7 linked regions of the Homo sapiens genome follow. The protein of the gene in region 5 purifies or fractionates together with the protein of the main gene of each other region. This does not show direct contact. Each region holds a gene or a part of one and is shown on either strand. Other genes may lie near its edges.

Region 1 (3,500 bases), on a different chromosome or scaffold from region 5:
TGTGATATTGAGGCATTCATACAGAGCTGCAGTTAGACGGGGTTACGGGGGCTAAAAGCAGAAAAAAAATTCCATTTCATCGGGATGGAACTGAAGGATTTTATTCTATAAAGCGGCCCTGGTTGAATCTGGCAATTCTTTTTGCCAAGATCCCTAGCAGAAGATTTAGCCATGTCCTTCCCCTCACTTGTGTGAGTGGCCCCTTCTGAATCTCTCCAGCAGCCAGAGGCACGTGAGAAGCAGAAAGAGCTGGTAAATAAAGCCTTGGGCAAGCGACTTCTTAGATCAGAACTCACCAAATGGAAGCCTAGCAGCTGCTCCATAAACCTAGCCCCATTCTTCATATCAATTTTGTATAAATATATAGAAACACACACACAGCCTCAGACTTACAAACTGATTATACTCTAAAAGTTTGTATGTCAGTTAGCTAAAACTTCAGAATACATTTCTCCCTATAAAGAGTTATAAATGATGGTTTAGTTCTCAGGCAGCTACAAATGCCTATTTATTCCCTAATGTACCTGAACACTAGTACCATAGAACTGAACCACCATCTGTATCAGCGCATGGGGAGTGTGCATTCTGAGGTCTAACCCGGGGTGCCAGGAACACACACATCCTCCATCCCAGCATAGAGAATGGGGACTCCCTGAGTAATGGGAGTTCTTTCATGGCCTCTGCTTGGGGTGGGGGAGTCAGCAGCACCCATTTGTACATATAGGTCATTCATACATCACATTTTAAATTGGGGACTGTGTGTGCTGGTGTGTGTGTGAGTTCTACGTTTCTACCATATGTGATCAGTTTAATAGTAACTTTATTTATTTAAAAAAAAGAAACACAATTAGTTACTGTTAAACTGATAAAGGGTGTTTATTTTTACTTTTAGAATTGGTCCTATGAAGAAGTAGAAAGTGAGTCATGCACTAGACAGTGGGCCTAGCTCATCAGTGGCTAAAGTTGAAAAGGGGTTGGTTTCCTGTATATATATGTATGTATATACACACGTACATACATTCATATATATACATATATACATAATGTGCTTAACCACTGCCTTTTAAAACTTTAAATTAAATAAAACATTGGGGTTGATTCAATTTGGCCATCTGTGTGTGTTTCTTTATAGATACATGGGCTAAACAATACTATTTCACAGTTTATGCTTTTTTAAAGTGCTTTTACATCCATGGTCCCACTTCTAATAGCCTTTTTAAGGACAGGTAGAGTACATGGAGGGTTACTGAAAAGGTCATTTATCCAGAAGTTACCTCTCTGGCAAAGCAAAAAAATCAGGAATTACGTCTTAAAGGCCTTTCAGCTGCCAGAGGAGATGTCACAAAGTTTCTTGCAACTTACTTATGGGAGAGATCTTCAAGAATATCACTCTTAGACTCTGAACTGAAATTTGCATACGCTTCCAACATGTTTTATTAGCTGGCTTTGAAGCTCACAAAAGAATGGCAAAGAAAGAGGCTGCTAGATTGAAGGCAGGCATACTGAAAGAAGAAAAAGGCCAACTGAAAACTAGATAGTGAGATGAGAAGAATAAAACTTCAAGACATAGCAAATCTGGGACTGTCTACTTACCAAAGGATACTCTAGTTGACCCAGAAAATGTGTGTACAACAGTATGGCCCGTAGACTACTTCCTATAATGGTGACCCTGAGTTTTTTTAAAAGAAGAAATTAAATCCAGAACGCTTTATAAAAGGGTAGGAAGAAGACAATAGATGTTAGAATTTCATCCAAAATGTTTGAGGGAGAGGTGAGTGACCCAGGTTTTAACCAACAGCAAAAGAAATGGGCAATTCATAATTTTAGATTAAGTGAAAAGTTTAGAAAAAATTTAAGTATTTTTGTTATTCTACAAATGCATTTTTAAAGTATTTTTATAATTTCTATAATCAAATAGCTTTGGCATGCATGTCAGCTTACCTAAATGAAGATGTGTTTAATGAAATGCCATCTTACCAGCTTTCTTTATGCAGAGTAAGTGTTTGAACAGTCCTGTTTCAGTAGCTGTGCTCTTCTGCTTTCAGTGAGTTCTGTTTCATTTTGCATTTCTCTGCACTGGGCACTAAGCTTTGTTTTTGAAAAGAGAGTTTGCGGGGAAGAAGATGAGAGTGTCTTCATCTGGCACACAGAAAGAGAACTAATATCTGTTAAGTGCTTACTACATGCTGGGCTTTTGATGTATGTTATCTCATGTAACCTCACCTTATCGCATATGAAAGATCCTCTCCAGAAAGCTTATGAAAGTTACCCCACGTCACAGCAAGGAAGAGTCCAACTCTGGTGGCCTGACTCCCAGCACCACTCCTTCCTTTTCCCCACAGCACACCTGGGCCCACACTGTGCCTCCTTAGGGCTCTGAAATGCTGGGAACAGAGTGGTGTGAGGAGGGTGGTCATTCTCAGGCCATTTTAAGCAATAACTATTTCAACAGAACTAGTTTAAAGAGGTTTTTAAGCAGGGAAGTGACCTGAAGTGGAAGTATGAGTGGGAAACTTGCATGGTCAGCACTGGATTTCCAATGAAGACCTGGAATCCGTTAGGATAGGCCAGGGACCAAGGCTGCAGGCTGGCCTCTCTGCCCACAACTCTCCTGACCTTGGAAGCAGGGTACGGAGGCGTGTGTCCTAAAATAAAGCATTTGAGCTGCTGCTACAGAGGAACAATCACCAGATATTGTGACCCTTTCAGATGCCCAGTAGTCCTGGGAGGCAGGCAGGGCAGGTGTTATTATCCCTTCTTTATAAATGAGGACACAGAATGAGGCAGTACAAGTGACTCTAAACACCCCCTTAGTGCCACATCAGTCTCGCCACCTCCCAGGACTAGGTGTCACCTGTATTGACCTCTTCCCCTCTGATTATAAAAGTAATATATGTTCATTGTGGAAAGTTTGGAAAATGCAGAAAATAAAATTAATAATTTACCCCAAATCCCACCATCCTGAGATCATCACTGTTAATGTTTTAGTGTATTTCCTTCCTGTATTTTTTCTATGCATATATAATTTATTTTACTACAAGATTGGGATCATGCTGTATTTACAGATTTGTATCCTGCTTTCTTTAACATATTGTGAGCATTTTCCCATGTCAATAAATATTCTTCAAAAAGTAATGGCTATATGATATTCCATTATGTGAATTGTGGCAGACACTGCTAGTTTCCTTCCCAATATTCTTTCTAACAGAAGACATCATGACCACCACGCCCATAAAAAAAAAAAAAAATTTAAAAAGGTGGTGCCTGCTGCCTTTCTAGAAGGCAGCATGAGTTGTTAGTGCTGAAGAGCAGCAGGAACTAGGGGTGGCACCAGGAGGAGCAGGCTTGCTCTGCCACACAGCAACAGTCTCACAGAAGCCTCGGCAGCACAAGTCAGAACAGCTAGAGTAAGTGCCCCGATAACTATAGTTTTTGTCAAGAAGAGTTATTTGAAGGGAGCGAGGGAGCCAGGTGACTTAGAAAAGTGCATTAAAAAAAAA
Region 2 (2,750 bases), on a different chromosome or scaffold from region 5:
TGAGTCTCATTCTATCACCCAGGCTGGAGTGGAGTGGTATGATCTTGACTCACTGCAACATCTGCCTCCCGGGTTCAAGTGATTCTCCTGCCTCAGCCTCCTGAGTCGCTGGGATTACAGAGATGTGCCACCACGCCCAGCTAATTTTTGTATTTTTTTTTTTTTTTTTTGGCAGAGATGGGGTTTCACCATGTTGGCCAGGCTGGTCTTGAACTCCTGACCTTAAGTAATCTGCCTGCCTCGGCCTCCCAAAGTGCTGGGATTACAGGCCTGAGCCACCACGGGGCCCCAGTGTGCAGTCTTTTATCCCCTCAGTCTGTACCCAGTGTGTAGTCTTTTATCCCTCACCCCCCTGCTCCCACCCTTTCCCCCTGGGTTGAATATTTCAAATCTATTTCTTCCTTAAATCTTACTCAAAGGAAATCCAATACCATAGTCAGTTTCACCAAGGATGAATTTCTTGACCCAGAAAGGAAAGCTCATTTTAGGGAGATGGTCAGTTTAGGTATGTGTCTGAATTTTATTTAAGATAGATGAACGTGGATATATAGTTATGCATTTGGGCCTGAATTTTTTTTTCTAGTTGTTCTTTTCACTGAGCTTTCCCAAGAATCCCCCCAGAATTAAAAAAAAAAAATTACTATCTCCTCTCCCTGGCATATAAAATGGTTGGGATTAGATTTACCAAACCATTACATCTCCCTTTTGTCTGCCTGCAAACAGATTTTCCAATCCATAGGCCCAAAGTGAACTCCCACGTGGAGTAGGATGAAAACCCACAGCATCTAGATCTTCAAATTCTGGAGAAAAAGAGAGTGTGAAAGACTGCTCAGTGGCTGGGGTGAGAGTCAAGTCTGGCCAGGTGCTAATCTGGAGAAAAGCCAAGACCTGGAGCGAGCTGGAGTGGCAGGCCCTGGAGGATGAGAAGGTGGCAGGAGTGCACTGGGGATACAAAGAAACCAAGATTTTTCTGGGAATTCTCAGAGGCCTGGATCCACGAAAAACTCCGCACCTGCCATCGAAACCACCAGGTGTACCGGATTATGGCTGAGCAGCTGTGAGAACATGGCTTCCTGTGGACCCTGGAGCAATGTTGCTATCGGTTCAAAAACCTCCTGACCGACTACTGCAAAGCCAGGAGCACCTACACACCAGGCACCAGTGTCTTCTATGATGAGATGGATGCCCTGTTGAGTCTTGGGGCACTTTCTAACACCTTTGATGCCTTAGAGGTGGTAGGAGGCCTTCTTTGGGATTGAGAGGATTCCAAAGGGAACCAGGGCATAGCACTAGAAGATGTGGCGGGATGGTAATGAAATAGTGGAGGAGTCTCAAGAGGAATCCTGGAGGCTTGGTCCCCAGGCCTTGAGGTGGAATCCCAGTGGCAACTCTCCCCCACAATGGACCTCAGAGCAGTGGGAGCGACGCAGTCCTGTGGGAAGCATTCAGGCTCAGAATCAGGAGATGTGATTATTGTCCTGGCTCTGTTATGACTAATTTGGGTCTGGAATGGCCTCATCGGGGGAAAAATTGGTGACAACTTTAAGAAATACTGTTTATATCCCGTCCTCAAATATTGCTTGACTCAACCCTCTACTGAACCAGTAGTCCAGGGTGGCTCACAAAGACCACTTTGAGGCTCTTGCTCTGCTCTTTAGCCAAGGAGTCTCCCTTCCTGCCTTCAGTAACAACATTACAGGAAGAGAGGAGAGAAAGGTAGGAGTTAAAGATCCAGTCATTTGTTTCCATCTAAAGTGCCCTATAAGCCGGGCATGGTGGCGCAAGCCTGTAGTCCCAGCTACTCGGGAGGCTGGGGCAGGAGAATCACTTGAGCCCAGGAGTTGGAGGCCGCAGTGAGCTGTGATCATGCCACTGCATTCCAGCCTGGGCGACAGAGTGAGACCCAGACTCAGCTGAAAAATAATAATATTATTAAAAGAATTTAAAATAAAGTGTTCCATAGATGTGAACCCTGCGTAGATTATACACACCAGTCTGCCATTTAAAAGGTTTGTTGTTCTTGGGCAACCTCTTTAAATACCCTTAGCCTCCATTTTCTCATCTGGACAGTGGACATTGTGATGGTTTCTACCTCCCTGGGCTGTTATGAGGATCCTGACACAGTATTAGCACTTGGCAAACGTTAGTTTTCATTATCATCATCATTATAATTATTATGAAAATAGATAAGGGCATTATCCTGTACCCTCAAAGGAGTAAAAGGGGGAAAATGAGTCATTAAACTTTCTCTTCTGGGAACTAGACCTTCTTGAGAGGCACTATCATTCTCATTTCACCTGTCACTTCCAGACATGGGAGCAGAAAGTGAATTTCAGAACTCCATGTCCCCTCCTGCTTTTCTCTGAGCAGGACTTCCAGTTCCCCAGCCAGATGGGGTCACAATGCTGCAGAAAAGTGAAGAGCTTTGGAATGAAGATCTCCCGGACTTCAAGGAGATTCAGAAAACGTCCAGTGCAGGTGGGAAATGAATGGGAGCTAGCATTCCACCAACAAAGTCAGCCCTGGGATTCTAAACTCGGACAAGCCAGCACTGGTTAAGGGCTGAGGGGAACCAGGCACTCAGTGCACCCAGTTTACTATTCTGTGGTGTGGAAAGCACAGGACTTGAGAAGCAGGTGGCACCCAGGAAAGCCTGTTCCCCTAAGTAAGTTTGAACTTTAGTTACTTGAAAAAAGGTATAACTGAATTATGAGTGTTTATGATTTTATCTTTATTTTATTTTTTTTGAG
Region 3 (3,500 bases), on a different chromosome or scaffold from region 5:
TCATTTTGTATTTTTAGTAGAAACAGGGTTTCATCATGTTGGCCAGGCTGGTCTTGAACTCCTGACTTCAAGTGATCCACCTGCCTTGGCCTCCCAAAGTGCTGGGATTACAGGTGTGATCCACCATGCCTGGCCTATTATCTTTTTGGTAAAGATAATATGGACATTGAAATATCTTTGTGCCATCTGATTGACAGTAATCAACAAAGGAAAGTTTGTTGTTTCCAATGAGTTAAAACTTACTTCAGCATACCCTTTTTTTTTTTTTTTTTTTTTTTTTGAGATGGAGTGTCTCTCTGTCGCTCAGGCTGGAGTGTGGAGTACAGTGGCACGATCTCAGCTCACTGCAGCCTCCATCTCCTGGGTTCAAGCAATTCCCCTGCCTCAGCCTCTCTAGTAGCTGGGATTGCAGGTGCCCACCACCAGAACCAGCTAATTTTTGTAGTTTTAGTAGAGATGAGGTTTTGCCATGTTGGCCAGGCTGCCCTTGAACTCCTGACTTCAGGTGATCCACCCAGCTCAGCCTCCCAAAGTGCTGGGATTACAGGCATGAGCCACCACGCCCAGCCGGCCTATTCTGATATGGTGTTTGCCAAATAGCAGCTGGCATCAAAAGCAACTGGTGTGTATGAAGTGGGAGTGTGTTCTGTTTCTAGATTCCTGATTCTCCTTCACCTCGTTGAATCAAGTCATGTCTGTTCTTGCTTTTAAGATTTCTTACCGGACCCTTGAACCTCAATGATCCAGATGCAAAATGCAGATTCCCCAAAATTTTTGTAAATACAGATGACACTTATGAAGAGCTCCATTTAATCGTTTATAAGGTAACAACTGTTTTCCTTCCAGCGTTAATGATTGTGCTGAAATGGATCTTTCTTGCATGTGTACACGAGTGCATGTGCAAACCTCTTAAATGTTTCTTGGAAAAGATATTGGAAGTTCTGATTATGGTAAAACTCAAAATGGGTGTTCTTCCAGCGTAATAAGTTTATTTTCAGCTCCTTTTAAACAGTTCTGTTATTAGTGAAAGAGGAACTGTTTAAGATTGTGATTTATAAACGTGTGAAGTCTCACGTGCTCTCAAACCAAAGGCTGTCAGAGGTTGGTGCTGCCTGTTCTCGAAATGGCTCTGGATGGGGGCCGTAGCCACGTGTCTGTGCATATGCTGCTTTTGCTCTGATTTTAAAGCTGTAGGCTTGCTAATTCCATAAGGATCGTATTTTGTTTCTGTCAGGACATGGTCTTGTAAGGATATGTACTCAGGTTGTGTTTCTAATTAAAGGCAGTTTTTGATTCAAGAAAGAAGACGGAGCATGTGCACGTGTTTATCCTCTTTCCTGCCTGAGGCTGTGGAGAAGTTTTCATTTATAAAGGCTCAGAAATGATGCCGTGGGGGAACAGGAAGGAGCGGGATGTGTCAGGATGAGGGAGTCCTGTCCCTCTCTGGAAGGTAGACGGGACTTGTAAACCATGCCTGATAGAGGGCGGTGCCGGAGCAGGCCTGGAATATGAGTGGCAACCCTGTGCTAAGGCAAGGACCCACAGCCCTGTGGAAGCCCAGAGAGGCTCCTGACTTGGAGGAGGTCACCTGAGGAGTCAGAGTGGGGCCTGGGCCTGGAAAGGTGGGGAAGGGAAGTGAAGTGTGGCAGAGAGGCCAGTCAGCCTCCCCTTCCCCCATCCTTGCACAGACAGGCCCACGGCTGAGCATCCATCCCTGGGTGACAATCGAGGGTCTGTTTAAAGAAAGGAAACAGTCTGAAGAGACCCAGAGTGGCTAACGTGGATGTCTGCCCCTGAGAATGAGGCCCTGCTCATTCTGGCATTTCTTTCTTCCAGACAGAACTGAGACCTTCATCCTACACTCAGAGTGAAGCCTCCATCTCTGGTCAGCCTTCTGGTTCCCTCATTGTTAAATATGGCTGCAAAAACAAAACTAGAGGTCTCGAAAGAAACATGATTCCGAGGACAGACGAGAACTTTAAAAATTAGTATCCACTAATTAGAAGAGTTGTATCTATTAATATAAAATTGAAATGGGCCAGGTGCAGTCCCAGCACTTTGGGAGGCCAAGGTGGGAGGATCACTTGAGGCCAGGAGTTGGAGGCCAGCCTGGGCAACATAGTAAGACCCTGTGTCGACAGGAAAATGTTTAAAAATTAGCCAGGCATGGCAGTGCTCATGTGTAGTCCCAGCTACTCAGGAGGCTGAGGCAGGAGAACCGCTTGAGCCCAAGAGTTGGAGGATGTAATGAGCTATGATCACACCACTGCATTCTAGCCTGGGTGACAGAGTGAAACCCTCTCAAAAATAATGAAACTGGTATCAACAGTTTCATATCCAGCACCAGACATTATGTGACAGTGGAAGAGAGACTTTCAAAGTTCTGAGAGAAAATGAATTTGAGCATAGAGTTCTTTGCCATGCCAAGCTGTCAACCACAGATAAGACAAAAGAAAGACATTAGCCGGGGCATGGTGGCTCACGCCTATAATCCCAGCACTTTGGGAGGCCAAGGTGGGCGGATCACCTGAGGTCTGGAGTTCGAGACCAGCCTGGCCAACATGGGGAAACCCTGTCTCTACTAAAAATACAAAAAATCAGCCAGGTGAGGTGGCGCACGCCTCTAATCCCAGCTACTCCGGAGGCTGAGGCAGGAGAATCACTTGTACCCGCGAGGCGGAGGTTGCAGTGAGCTGAGCTTACGCCACTGTGCTCCAGTCTGGGCAACAGAGCAAGACTCTGTCTCAGAAAGAAAAAAAAAAACACGTTCAACATGAAAAGCCTCAAAAAGTTTACCGTCATGCACCCTTCCTGAGGGTGTTACACAGGGTCATCCGTCAGCAGAATAAGTGAGCACACCAAGAAGGAACACTTGGGAATCCAGAACAGTAGTTCTCATGTGTGAGACGGTACAAGGAAATCTTGGGGTGATAAGGCTCTTCAGGTCTGCTGGCGGCACCCCACCTCCAGCAGCTCCGTGACAGCAGGAGGAGGGAGGGCTCTAGGGTTCAAGCCGCCAAGATAAAAAGATGTTTCATTCATCACATGGTGTGCTTGAGAGTCACTTAAAGTTGGGCTGTGACAGACTGGCAGGGAAGGGGAGATTGCAGGCAGAGCATACAGAAAGATGTGGTCTGAAAAAGCAAACCAAAATGTTGGAGGTGTAATTCAGAGCAGGAATTGGAGTAGGAAGAATGTCCGTTTGTGTATCGAGTGAAAGTTTGAGACCCCATCTCAAGAAAAAAATCATCCTCCTTTGAATGACCCAGGTAATGACTGAAATCTCCATAACCCTGGTGTGTAATATGCTGTCGGCTGCATTTCTATTTTTAGAGTCAATCTACAGACATATTGTGGGGTGTGATGATGGGGTTGTGGCTATGTTAAAGGGTCCTTACCTTTTTCTTAATGACTTTGAGATACAATGCACGTACCATACAACTCACCCTCCTACACTTAAAATGTACAGTTCAGTGATTTCTAGTTGCAAAGTTCATGAG
Region 4 (3,479 bases), on a different chromosome or scaffold from region 5:
CTACTTGAGAGGCTGAGGCAGGATAATCGCTTGAACCTGAAAGGTGGAGATTGTGGTGAGCCGAGATTGTGCCATTGCACTCCAGCCTGGGCAATAAGAGCTAAAGTCTGTCTCAAAAAAAAAAAAAAAAAAAAGAATAAGGGTGATAGGGCCAGGTGTGATGACTCATGCCTGTAATCCCAGCATTTGGGAGGCCAAGGTGGGCAGATTACCTGAGGTCAGGAGTTTGAGACCAGCCTGGCCAACATGGTGAAACCCCGTCTCTACAAAAAATACAAAAATTTCCTGGGCATGGTGGCGTGTGCCTGTAATCCCAGGTACTCGGAAGGCTGAGGCAGGAGAGTCACTTGAACCCAGGAGGCGGGGGTTGCAGTGAGCCGAGATCGCGCCACTGCACTCCAGCCTGGGAGACGAGGGAAACTCCATCTCAAAAAAGAAAAAAAAAAGAAGAAGGGTGATAGGGCTGGGTGCAGTGGCTCACTCCTGTAGTTCCAGCACTTTGGGAGGCGGGGGCAGACGGATCACTTGAGGTCAGGAATTCAAGACCAGCCCGGGCAACATGGTGAAACCCCGCCTCTACTAATAATACAAAAATTAGCTGGGCATGGTGGCATGCGCCTGTAATCCCAGCTACTCGGGAGGCAGAGTGGGGAGAATCGCTTGAACTCGGGAGGCGGAGGTGTAGTGAGCTGAGATTGTGCCACTGCACTGCAGCCTGGGCGACAGAGTGAAACTGTGTCTCGAGAAAAAAAAAGAGTAAGGGTGTTAGGCCCTGTCCTGTCAGCAGTTTCTGTCTGTGTTGTGAGGCTCAGGAGGGTATAAGTTATTTGCACCTGAGAGGATTCCCCAGGCAGGAGGCAAGGCATGTAGTTTGAAAAAGTCTATTCCATATAAATGTCTCTGTTGTTTTTGTGATAAAATCTGCAAGAAGTGTGGCTTGATCAAATCTTTTTTCATGAGGATACACAAGAGTACAAAAGCATTGTGAAGGGGAATGGACTAGAAAAGCATCAACCTAAATTATTCCTCCAAGTAGGACAAGTTTACAAATGCCCATGACTTCCATGCAGGCATCAGAGAAGGAAGCACGAGCTGCTTTCATGGAGGCTTAGTAGGAAAAAAGTCTTTTTTGAACCTGTAATTCCTGCTTTAATCTTCCACCTTTTTATGTGATCGTCAGCGATGGCTAACAATGGTCTCAGGATGTGTTGCTCCTCGGAGAGCAGAGCATGTCTCCAGTCTTCCTTTACTCACTCATGCATTCATTCATTTTTTTTGTTTTGTTTTGTTTGGGGACAGAGTCTGGCTCTGTCGCCCAGGCTGGAGTGCAATGGCATGATCTCAGCTCACTGTAACCTCCACCTCCTGGGTTCAAGTGATTCTTGTGCCTCAGGCTCCCGAGTAGCTGGGACAACAGGTGTGCGCCACCACACCTGGCTACTTTTTATATTTTTAGTAGAGACGGGGCTTCACCACAATGGCCAGGCTGGTCGAACTCTTGACCTCAGGTGACCCGCCCACCTTAGCCTCCCAAAGTGCTGGGATTACAGGCGTGAGCCACCGCGCCTGGCCACTCATGCATTCATTCTTGCATTCCAAGTGTGTTTGAGCTTCTCCTGGGAGCTGGGTCTCATGCCAGTCACTGTGCTGAGTGCTGAGGAGACATGATGAACAAGATGAGCATGGCTCCTACCTTCATGAAACTAACCATCTAGAGGGGAGAGAAAACATTATAAATGGGATGAATATGCAGAAGTGCAAGGTGCTGTGGGTATCTGGTCTGGGAGTATTGATCGGGGACAACTTCCCCTAAGAGGTGATGGTTAAGCTAAGAACTGAAGCACAGTAAGGTTTGTAAGGTGAAGGACAAGAAACAACTGACCACTTTCTTTTTTGTCACAGAATCTCGAATCCTGACCTTCTTAGAAACCTACCTTGCCTCGGGTCATCAGAAGCCATTGCCCACAGTCCCTGGGGGACTCAGTCCAGTTCAGAGAGAGCTGGAGGAAGTTGCTATTAAATTTGCTCGCCTGGTCAACTATAACAAGATGGTCTTCTGTCCCTACTACGATGCAATCCTGAGTAAGATCCTCGTCCGATCCTAACGTGTATGCACCCTACAGCAGCAGTATTACTCACTAGCCACAGAATACCTGTTCTGTACTCTAATGTTGCATTGGAAAATGGCTATATAGTACATGTCTATTTAACAGCACCGATTCCAAAGGGAAGAATATTGTGTATCACTGTTGAAAAGACTTGTTGAGAAATCCACTGAATTCTATTTTGAGAGATTGTATTTATGAGTGCAAGTTTACAAATCAAAGAAGCATTTTGTTCTCGAGTTTTACAGGTAACACTCAGCTGTTGTCTCCACTCCTCCCCCATCATGTCCTTCCAAGGAGGCTGGGACCTCTCTCTTCTGCAATCTGGGTAGTTCTTTCAGATGCCTCATGCTGAGCTGACGGCCATCCAAGCGCAAAAGAGACCAAGCCATGGCCTCACCTCCTGCCCTCCCTCAGACAGCCTTGTCCCTCACCCCTCCCTTCTGGTATTTTTGTTAGAAGGGCTATATAACGTCTTATTGCCATTTTCTCCCCCTATTTATTGCTTCCTCCCTGCCTGGCCTAGCCAGGGCTCCCAAGCCCTTTTTTCTAGAGGAGAGTTATTTGTCTCTCTCTCTTTTTTTTTTTACTTTCTTTTTTGTATTTAAACATTCTTTTAACCTTCCCCCAAAGATACAGTTATTGGACTTTAAAAAGCTTGTTCTTTTATACAAAATTACTCCTGCATCTGGTTGAGAGCAGTTATGACTTATGAGATCTAGTGAAAGGAAAGTCTTTGACTTTCAAGCCTTGAAAGTCAAGGAGGAAATGTATTGAAAAATAGTTTACTGTAATGTGAACGAAGAGAAATGTCTGGAATTCTTACTGAAAAATTGACCCTGAGACAATACACAGATGTGATGATTGAATTAAATTCTGGAATTAGATTTAACTGTTTTCAGATAAAATAGCTTGAGTTCACGAATCTCCTAGATGAGGAAGTCATAGGAAATCCCTGGTGTTTGAGCATTATTTTTCAAGGAACTTCAGTGACCAGAATTCCTGACATGTCCTCTGAGCGTGAGTGATTTGGGTCTCATAGACGATCTGTTCTTTTTTTTTTTTTTTTTTTTTTTTTAAAGTGTACACATGTATGTCTGCATTTTAGACAGGGATGTTATATTAGAAGCAGAGCCATGAAGTTGGAATGACCAACTGCCACAACAGCAAGGGGTAAGACTATATTACTGTATGAGTAATGCAGTAATATCGGCACCTGAAGCCTTCTGTACAGGAAGCTAAGAGAAACTTACAAGTTAGCCGGGCGTGGTGGCTCACGCCTATAATCCCAGCACTTTGGGAGGCCGAGGCAGGCAGATCACCTGAGGTCAGGAGTTTGAGACCAGCCTGGGCAACATGGTGAAACCCCATCTC
Region 5 (3,736 bases):
GCAGGAGGGCAGCAGCCGTACCCCTCCCAGCAACTACAGAGAAGGCCTGGGCACTGAAATGGTGCCTACCTTCTGGAATGTCTGTGCCCCAGGTCCTTAGAATGTCTGCTTCCCGCCGTGGCCAGGACCACTATTCTCACTGAGGGAGGAGGATGTCCCAACTGCAGCCATGCTGCTTAGAGACAAGAAAGCAGCTGATGTCACCCACAAACGATGTTGTTGAAAAGTTTTGATGTGTAAGTAAATACCCACTTTCTGTACCTGCTGTGCCTTGTTGAGGCTATGTCATCTGCCACCTTTCCCTTGAGGATAAACAAGGGGTCCTGAAGACTTAAATTTAGCGGCCTGACGTTCCTTTGCACACAATCAATGCTCGCCAGAATGTTGTTGACACAGTAATGCCCAGCAGAGGCCTTTACTAGAGCATCCTTTGGACGGCGAAGGCCACGGCCTTTCAAGATGGAAAGCAGCAGCTTTTCCACTTCCCCAGAGACATTCTGGATGCATTTGCATTGAGTCTGAAAGGGGGCTTGAGGGACGTTTGTGACTTCTGGCGACTGCCTTTTGTGTGTGGAAGAGACTTGGAAAGGTCTCAGACTGAAATGTGACCAATTAACCAGCTTGTTTGATGATGGGGGAGGGGCTGAGTGTGCAATGGGCCCAGGTCTGGAGGGGCCACGTAAAATCGTTCTGAGTCGTGAGCAGTGTCCACCTGAAGGGTCTTCCTTTCAAAAGAGGCTGCGGCCAGAGACTGTGGCTCATGCCTGTAATCCCAGCACTTTGGAGGCTGAGGCAGGTGGATCACCCGAGGTCAGGAGTTTGAGACCAGCCTGGCCAACGTGGTGAAAGTTTGTCTTTACTAAAAATACAAAAGGTAGCCGGGGGTGGTGGTGGATGCCTATAATCCCAGCTACTCGGGAGGCTGAGACAGGAGAATGGCTTGAACCTGGGAGGCGGAAGTTACAGTGAGCCGAGATCTCACCACTGCACTCCAGCCTGGGCAACAAGAGTAAAAATCTGTCTCAAAAAGAAAAAAATGTACTTAGGAGGGGTTAATTGTGGCGTGTTTATGGAATTCTTTCCTTATTCTCCTTTTAGTGGGGCAAAGAGAAGTAAGATTCTTAAACTCAAAAATATAGGATAAAGAAACTTACAGAGATTTTGCTTTTTAAAGCATTGATCTTACGCTGTCTAGGTTTTAATTTTGTTTTGCTTTGCTTTTCTACACAGTTTTTAAAGAAATATTTCAAGAAATGTTGGTTATTTATTAAACAGGGATATTTGTACCTATGTGGCAAAGAGGCATATTTGGAATATTCTCTGGCAAACTAGATACTTACTTCCCTATCGCTGCAGTATTTAGGAATTACTTCTTCTCCTTGGTTGTGTTGTTTAGAGTTGGATTTTCTGTAGAAATCTTTCTAGAGCTCTGATGTGACTCCAGACACTTTATCGTTTTTCTTTTTTTTGAGACGGAGTTTTGCTCTTGTTGCCCAGGCTAGAGTGCAGTGGTACAATCTTGGCTCACTGCAACCTTTGCCTCCCAGGTTGAAGTGATTCTCATGCCTCAGCCTCTTGAGTAGCTGGGATTAGAGGCAGGTGCCACCATGCCTAGCTAATTTTTGTATTTTTAGTTAGAGACAGGGTTTCACCATGTTGGCCAGGCTAGTCTCGAACTTCTGACCTCAGGTGATCCCCCTGCCTTGGCCTCCCAAAGTTCTGGGATTACAGGGGTGAACCACTGTGCCTGGCCCATTTTTCTTTATAAATATTGTAACATAATGTTTTATAGACAAACATTCAAGGGTACTTTGGCTTTAAGAACTTCAGGATTTCTGGTGCTAGAAAAGCGCTTGAAGCAGTATCACCAAGATTTTAGATATTAAAAAGTCTGGTGTACCAGACATTGAGTCATAATCATCTATATTCAAGGGATACTTTCATTGATAACTTTGTTATTATGCTGCCCTTCACAGAAGACAACGTCCGGGGCAGGATCACATGCTCCCTAGCAGATGCTGATCAGTGATGTCATAGAAATTACATGAATGCATTGTCTTTAAATAGCAGTTTAACCATGTTATAATGTAGGCTTTTTGTCTTGTTCCGGGCTGGTATTTGGGTGCCCTGATTGAATTACTTGGATTTAAACAGCAAACTGTGGGCTCTCGACTTACATAGTAAGGGCCTTTACTGTTTCTTTGTAGGAAATGGGTTTCTCGCCTTTGAAACATTTTTTCCCCTTTTGTAGTGACAGTGCCACTAAATAGTTCAGCTTTTGTCAGTCCCCCAGGAAAGTGCTATCCTATGGCCTAACTAGCCAAGCCTTTTTTCTTTCATTTAAAAGAAATTAGCTTTAATTTTTACCTTTAATTACTTATTCAAATAAGACAGAAATATATTTTCCTTGCAATAATTAAAACATTGCATATAGGCCATAAATTTCCTTATTTTCTCTGAACGATCCTGATTCCAGTCATCTTGTTGAATACCCTAGTTCTAATAATTGACTCTTGCTTTTCTAGAGAAATATTTCCAAATGATGCTAGTTTTGTCTCTTCCTTTCAAAGTTGTATACCACTTCTTTTTCTTGTCATTTTGCATTGCCTGGGACCTCCAGAATAATGTTTCATGAAGTAGCATGTATCCATATCTGGTTCTTGACTTTTTCATCATAATAATTGTTTTCTATGGGTTACTTATCAGTTTAAGAATGCTTAATTCCTAGATGAACTAAGAGTGTTTATTACATGTTGAGATTTATGGTATGCTTTTTCTTCCTCAAGATAATGCATTTTTTGTATTATCTGTTAATGTGATAGGTTATCCATTTGTGTATTTTCAATCATTGAACAACCCTTGATTTTTTTGGATAAACTCTATTTGGTCATTATGCATCATTCTATAAACCCTGCTGAATTTTTCATTTGCCAACATCTTATTTCAGATTCTTTTAATCTGTGTCCAACAATGAGATTTGTTTTCTTTTGCAATTTGTTTTGAATTTTTGGTATCAGAGCTATACTAACCTTATAATGGAAAATACATATTTCTCAAACTTTTACACTGATATATTCATAGTATTTTTTTATAATTTGAAAAATCTTGTCAGTATCTGTATTAAGGCCTCCATTTCAGTTCTGCTATTTCATATTGCCTTAGGTTGTCTATTTGTCTCTTTAATGAACCCGATTTTGATTTTGTCATTTTTAAAATAAACACATTTATGCTATAAACTTCCTTAATTACTACTTAGGCAACCTTCCCAGTATTGGTATGTTTCTTTTTTCCCAAGAATTCTTTAGGAGTATATTTAACTTCTGGGAGGAGTACTGATTTTTCATTCACTTATATATGATCAATTTCTGCAGATGTTTCCTGTGTCTTTGGTATGTTGTTAACTGTACAACTAAAATTTGCTTTCAGCCTTATCTATGCTCTTTGATTCAAGGAGGCTGAGTTTCCTGCTAGGATCCCATCTTGTAGTTCAGTGTGTAAATAACCAAAACATTTCCTCCCTTGAGAACCCCCCAGGCCCTGCCCCAAGTCATTTCATGAACTGAGGAAAACTTCAAATACAATGAACATTTTATTTTAAAAAACCTAACTAACTCACCACTTGGTAAAAGGTCACCAAATGTTTATGAGAGAGGAAATAAGAATAAAAAAGACATTTAGTTCTCAGGAACAAGTGTTAGAGAACTGATACACAACCCTCCAGAAATGAGGCAGAGAT
Region 6 (2,159 bases), on a different chromosome or scaffold from region 5:
GCGCACTAGAAACATCAGTTAATGCAAGCCTGATCTAAACTGTGAATGTGGTAAGATCAAAATCCTGACCCCTCTGCGGAGCACTTGGTCTGCAGCTCAAGGTTGCTGTCCGTTTCTTTGTTGTTCCATTAGTTGTCCCAGGATGACAACCTTGTGCTTGGTGTGTGTCACCAGCCTTGTGCTTCTAACCCCCTCCCCTGGGTGTCCCGGGCACTTTGCAGTTTCTCAGGCCCCGGGCAGCAGTGTTGATAGGCTCAAAACTCCTGAGGCCTGGTAGGTTTTGTAGGTGGATTTTTTCCCCTCTTCTACTTGTTAACATTTCTTGGCTGGGCACAGTGGTTCATGCCTGTAATCCCAGCACTTTGGGAGACCAAGGTGGGCGGATCACTTGAGGTTAGGAGTTCGAGACCAGCCTGGCCAACATGGCGAAACCCTGTCTCTACCAAAAAATACAAACATTAGCAGGGCGTGGTGGTGTGCACCTGTAGTCCCAGCTACTTGGGAGGCAGAGGCTGCAGTGAGCCAAGATCACACCACTACACTCCAGCCTGGGTGACAGAGCAAGACTCTGTCTCAAACAAAAAAAAAAAAAAAAAATTCTTGCCTAGTCTTCTGGGATTTAAGGTCAAAATCAATGCAAATCTCTCTTCCTAATTTTACCCAAGAAGAATTTAATTATATATCATGTAACCTTTTAAGTGACTGCCTCTTCCTTCCTCACTGTTGTGTCCTTGTTGCAGAAGAGGTCAAGAAACTTTGTGCAACGCAGTTCAACAACATCTTCTTCTTGGATTGACGGATGACGGCTCACCGAGAGCATATCTAAAAAACACTCTGCAAACATTTGGTCACATGCAAGTTAGTGGTCATATGACGGACTGCATTCAGGACAAGGGTAAAGCAATACTTGCTTTGAAGAATCACATTTCGACTCGGTCTGCTGATCTGAGGTTTTTAGATTTTAAATATTTATGTGGAATTAATTAAAGGTAGTTGGCTATATCGCTATCATTTCATTCTTTTGACATTATGTGAATATTTTACTGGAAAATAAGACTAATAAATTGTTAAAAGTTTTTAAAATTCTGGTTTGGTGTTGAGTCTCTCTCCTGCTGCCTATTTATAGATTACACTGGCCACCAGCTCCGTGACCCAGGCTGGAATGCAATGGCTCACTGCAGCCTCAACCTCCTGAGCTCAAGCAATCCTCCCACCTCAGCCTCCCAAGAAGCTAGAACCACATGTACACACCACCACGGTCGGCTGATGTTTTAATTTTGCAGAGATGGGGGGGTCTCACTATGTTGCCCAGGCTGGTCTCGAACTCCCGTAATCCAGCCATGTAGGAAACCTGAGATGCAGTGGGCCAAGGGGTATGTTAAAACACTGTGACGAGTTCAGTGCTAAGAACTGTAATGCTCAGGAAATCTTACAGCACGTGCCATCCTAAGCCTGTGTGTGTGTCCTCGTGTCTCTCTACTTTTTCTTCTTCTTGCTGGTGATGGTCTTGCTGGATGGGGACACGGTCACATCCTCCTTGGGAGGGTCCAGTATGAGGTGAGAGGATGACACGTCTGCCGGCTCCTTGAGCACTGTGATGTCCACCTCATAGTCATGTCTCTTGGCCTCTTCCTCTCTCAAGATGAAGATGTTCAGCCTAAAAGCAAACATGAGAAGGTGGTAGCTTTTTTTATCCCCCTCCAAACTGCAAAACCAGTTTTAGGCTATTTATAGTATACAGCCCTTCATACCTGCATTTCAACAGCATGTGTAAACAAAACTGTAAGTTGCTACACTCTGCCTGAAATAACTGATGCCATGTCGACACAGTCCAAAATAAACTTCTCATCTATCTATGAAAAGAAAATTTTTTCTCGAGACAGACAGAGTTTCGCTCTTGTTGCCCAGGCTGGAGTGCAATGGTGCAATCTCGGCTCACTGTAACTTCCGCCTCCCGAGTTCAAGCGATTCTCCTGCCTCAGCCTCCTGAATAGCTGGGATTATAGGCTTCCGCTACCACGCCCGGCTAATATTTTGTATTTTTAGTAGAGATGGGTTTCACCAGGTTGGCCAGGCTGGTCTCAAACTCCTGACCTCAGGTGATCCACCCACCTCGGCCTCCCAAAGTTACGTGTGTGTGTGTGTGTGTGTGTGTATTA
Region 7 (3,500 bases), on a different chromosome or scaffold from region 5:
AGTGCGCTCTAGCCTGGGCGACAGAGTGAGGCCCTGCCTTGAACAAAATGATGCAAAACAAAAAAACCACAGAACCTGATAAATAATTAATTATGAAGCATATAAGAGCCTTCACTTAGGTCCCAAAATAGAGCATAGCTAGCGCCCCCGTCTGTCTCTCCTTTTCCAGTTACACCTCATTCTCAATTTTATAAAGTAGCTATTGTCCTGAGTTTTATGACGCTACTCTGTTGCTTTTCTTCATAAATTTATTGCTTATATATGTAGATTTGATTTGCATCATCTATGGATTTTATATTTGCAAATTCATGTACTTACTGAAATTTATTTGTGACCCCAAAATCAATACTCAACGTCACTTCTGCAGTTGTTCAGACTTACCCATATGCAGAGTGGTGGAAAATTTGAGTGGCCCAACCCATATTATTCCCAAAGAGGGCAAACATGGCAGTGACCTACCTTCTTATTTCAGCTCTCATCCTGTACACAGATGTCCTTTTTGCAGTCTAATGCCATGTTTTTCACACTTTTATGCGTTTTGTTGGTGAGGTCACTTTTTAAAATGGCCCCATACTAGTGCTGTCTAGTGTTCTAAGCACAAGAAGGCTGTGATGTTCCTTAGGGAGGAAATATGTGTGTTAGATAAGCTTTGTTCAGACATGAATTATAGTGCCATTGGCTGTGAATTCAGTCTTAATGAATCAACAGTAAATATTAGATACAGCATCTTAACATACATGCACAAAACAAGGTTATGTATTGATTGGTTGACAAAAATGTCATCAGAGGCTCATAGGAACCTAGCCCTGTATTTCTCCTAGGAGCAATGCTCTGGTATTCCCTAATTCAGTGTTTGCAGTGACTTTAAAGAACATAACTACCACAAAATAGTAAGAATTGACTGAATATCTGAATGATATAGTTTGGTTTTGCCTGCTTTTGAGCCTAATAAAAATAGAATCGTAATATTTTTATGTTTTTTTCTTACTCCATACTAAAGATTTATCTGTGTGGCTGTAGCTGTTTGTTCATTTTTATTAATGTATAATATTCTATGGTATAACTATACCACAATTAACTGTTCTATTGTTGATGGACATCTAGTTTTTTTCCAGCTTTTGGACATTATGAACAATGCAGCTCTGAGTATTCTTATATATGTATCTTAGACATGCATGCCTGAACTTCTCTGTAGCATAGACCCAGAAGTGGTTGGCTCATAGTAGTAGATAATGACAAACTGTCTCCCTAGATTCTTGAGCCAATAATAGTGAAAGTTCCTGTTATTCCACAAGCCTGATGATGCTTGATACTGTCATCGGTATGGTTGGAACTTCAATTTCCTTTTGTCCTTTTATAGTCGGTCAAGTTCATAGTGAACTAGGGAGTCTGTTCATTTAGGCTATGGAAGCCTTCTAGTAATTTGTACTTTCAGTGAATAAGGAATTCCTCTTTGTCTTTCTGCGTGTGTGTGTGTGTGTGTGTACGCGCGTGTTCTCCTTAGGGAGATTGGAGTCTAGTAGGAAAAACTACTTACGAAGCAGCGCCTTTGTAATACTGTAATACGGCAAGCTTTGGTCTATGTCTAGTAACAAGAAGCTCTGAATTACTTTGAACTTCGGATGCTTTTTGTTTTTTTTTCTTTCCACTCCTATATAAAGCTTAAGAGATGTGATTGCTGTTTTTGGCAAAAAAGGGGAATCTTTTCATATTTTAAAATTTTTGCCAGGAAACATTACCTGGAGCCAGAATAAGTGGAGGTCTTTCCAACTTGTCCTTCTCCTTCCGAGGAATGGAAGCCATTCGAGAAGCAATGCATGGGGTTTTCCTTTACCATGCAATCAAGGTATGGTAGAAGAACTCTTAGCCCTGCGGAAACCAGTTTTTAGTTGGGGCAGGGGTTTTCAAAGTGTGGCATGCAGGCTAAGTCCGGCCTGCTGCCAGTTTCTGTAAATAAGATTTTATTGGGATAGAGCCACACCTATTCATTTGTATCTTGTCTGTGGCTGCTTTTATGCTGTAACTACAAAGTTGAGTAGCTGTGACAGAGGCTATGGCCTAAAATATTTCTCTCTGGCCCTTTACAGAGAAAAGTTTGCTGATCGCTGACTTAAGGTATCACTGTAAATTCTCATTTTTATTTGTATTGCCCTTAGTCTGGCATGGACATGGGGATAGTGAATGCTGGAAACCTCCCTGTGTATGATGATATCCATAAGGAACTTCTGCAGCTCTGTGAAGATCTCATCTGGAATAAAGACCCTGAGGCCACTGAGAAGCTCTTACGTTATGCCCAGGTAGAGAGACAAGTGTTCTAATAGATGGATTTTTCCTATCTTTGAATGTATTACTCACCTACAGTTAGTAGACCTTCATGGTGGAATAGAAGCAAATATCGAATCATATATTTGGATCACTGAAGATTTCTACAGAGAGTTGCAGAGATGGTGGTGTAGCTAGGGCAAGGAAGGGTAAACAGACCATGCCTAGGGTGCTTCCGTATTCTGAACTTAGGTTTCTTTAAATTTATTGTAAAATGTAAAATTAATTTTTCTTGTACCAAGTAACATATTAGTTCTAGAAAATTTACAAAATTCTGGTAAGCAAAGGAAGAAAATAAAAATCACTTGTAATCCTACCACCCAAAGTTAAACACTTGAGATTTTGTTATAACCTTTAAGTGATGGGAGTTTTTATTTCTTTTTGCAAAATGAATATGCATGCATAGGTACATATACATACATTTTTTACAAAAATAGAACTATACTCTAGATGCTTTTATGGTAATATTTTTTTCTTAGCAGTGTACTGGGAACATATTTCCATTTTACTTGATATTTTTCTACCTCATTATTTAAAATAGCTGTTCTGGATTTTCTTGTGTGGCTATGTTAGTGTTACATGGTCCCCACTGTTCCATGTTTTGGTTTGTATACCTGTTTATGTTAGGATCTGGTCCATCTGTGGCAAAGTTCTGCAGTTCAAGGCTTAGGTCTGTGCACATTTGATGTGTAAAAAATGAGTATAATTATAGCTAATTCAAACACCAGCTTGTTTCTCATTTATATGTTGGGCGCAGTCCTAGGCACATGAAGTATCTATCGTAGATGGTTCTTCTTAGAATTCAGTTTAAGGAAAGTTGAGATCTTTACCTCAAAAGAACTTGCATTTTAATCTGTTTAAGAGAATGATGGCAAAGGAAGATATTTTTCCCACAAAGCATGTTGAGAAAGTGGTAGGATGCTTTTGTGTCTCTTGCCAACTTTGTTAATGTTTTCCATGTTAGAATCTGAATTTAGCTCTGATAGAACTGCCAACTTTGCCTCTTCCACAGAAGAGTAATAAAATGCTCTGGAAGAAGGATAGGACACTATGAGATTAACCACATCCTTGTTTTATCAGCCTTACTGGTAGTAAGACTTAGATTTCTGAAATTGCTTATGGAAGCCTTAGGCTCAACAAAGCTGAAAGGAGTTCAGACACTGTGCCAACGCTCACAC

Evidence for each region.
Region 1: the proteins of VWA2 (region 5) and RIC8B purify together in Homo sapiens (affinity purification with mass spectrometry; one large-scale study listed by BioGRID and IntAct). This does not show direct contact.
Region 2: the proteins of VWA2 (region 5) and WDR73 purify together in Homo sapiens (affinity purification with mass spectrometry; one large-scale study listed by BioGRID and IntAct). This does not show direct contact.
Region 3: the proteins of VWA2 (region 5) and CCZ1B purify together in Homo sapiens (co-immunoprecipitation; one large-scale study listed by IntAct). This does not show direct contact.
Region 4: the proteins of VWA2 (region 5) and TCP11L1 purify together in Homo sapiens (affinity purification with mass spectrometry; one large-scale study listed by BioGRID and IntAct). This does not show direct contact.
Region 6: the proteins of VWA2 (region 5) and CCZ1 purify together in Homo sapiens (affinity purification with mass spectrometry, with the first as the bait; one large-scale study listed by BioGRID). This does not show direct contact.
Region 7: the proteins of VWA2 (region 5) and MTR purify together in Homo sapiens (affinity purification with mass spectrometry; one large-scale study listed by BioGRID and IntAct). This does not show direct contact.

Annotation. Positions count from the first base shown.
Region 1 is NC_000012.12:106,886,182-106,889,681, forward strand, and holds the end of RIC8B (chaperone Ric-8B), read left to right. Parts: 3' UTR 1-3,135; downstream 3,136-3,500.
Region 2 is NC_000015.10:84,638,785-84,641,534, forward strand, and holds the end of WDR73 (integrator complex assembly factor WDR73), read right to left. Parts: 3' UTR 501-2,750; downstream 1-500. UniProt on the Homo sapiens protein: Component of a multiprotein complex required for the assembly of the RNA endonuclease module of the integrator complex. Associates with INTS9 and INTS11 in the cytoplasm, stabilizing the INTS9-INTS11 heterodimer and blocking the active site of INTS11.
Region 3 is NC_000007.14:6,809,276-6,812,775, reverse strand, and holds part of CCZ1B (vacuolar fusion protein CCZ1 homolog B), read left to right. Parts: intron 1-712; coding exon 713-824; intron 825-3,500.
Region 4 is NC_000011.10:33,070,572-33,074,050, forward strand, and holds the end of TCP11L1 (T-complex protein 11-like protein 1), read left to right. Parts: intron 1-1,902; coding exon 1,903-2,105; 3' UTR 2,106-2,979; downstream 2,980-3,479.
Region 5 is NC_000010.11:114,291,254-114,294,989, forward strand, and holds the end of VWA2 (von Willebrand factor A domain-containing protein 2 precursor), read left to right. Parts: 3' UTR 1-3,236; downstream 3,237-3,736.
Region 6 is NC_000007.14:5,924,892-5,927,050, forward strand, and holds the end of CCZ1 (vacuolar fusion protein CCZ1 homolog), read left to right. Parts: intron 1-740; coding exon 741-796; 3' UTR 797-1,476; coding exon of another isoform or gene 1,477-1,657; 3' UTR 1,658-1,659; downstream 1,660-2,159. Other genes in the region: RSPH10B (radial spoke head 10 homolog B), read right to left, coding at 1,477-1,657. UniProt on the Homo sapiens protein: Acts in concert with MON1A, as a guanine exchange factor (GEF) for RAB7, promotes the exchange of GDP to GTP, converting it from an inactive GDP-bound form into an active GTP-bound form.
Region 7 is NC_000001.11:236,850,792-236,854,291, forward strand, and holds part of MTR (methionine synthase), read left to right. Parts: intron 1-1,729; coding exon 1,730-1,846; intron 1,847-2,156; coding exon 2,157-2,297; intron 2,298-3,500. UniProt on the Homo sapiens protein: Catalyzes the transfer of a methyl group from methylcob(III)alamin (MeCbl) to homocysteine, yielding enzyme-bound cob(I)alamin and methionine in the cytosol. MeCbl is an active form of cobalamin (vitamin B12) used as a cofactor for methionine biosynthesis.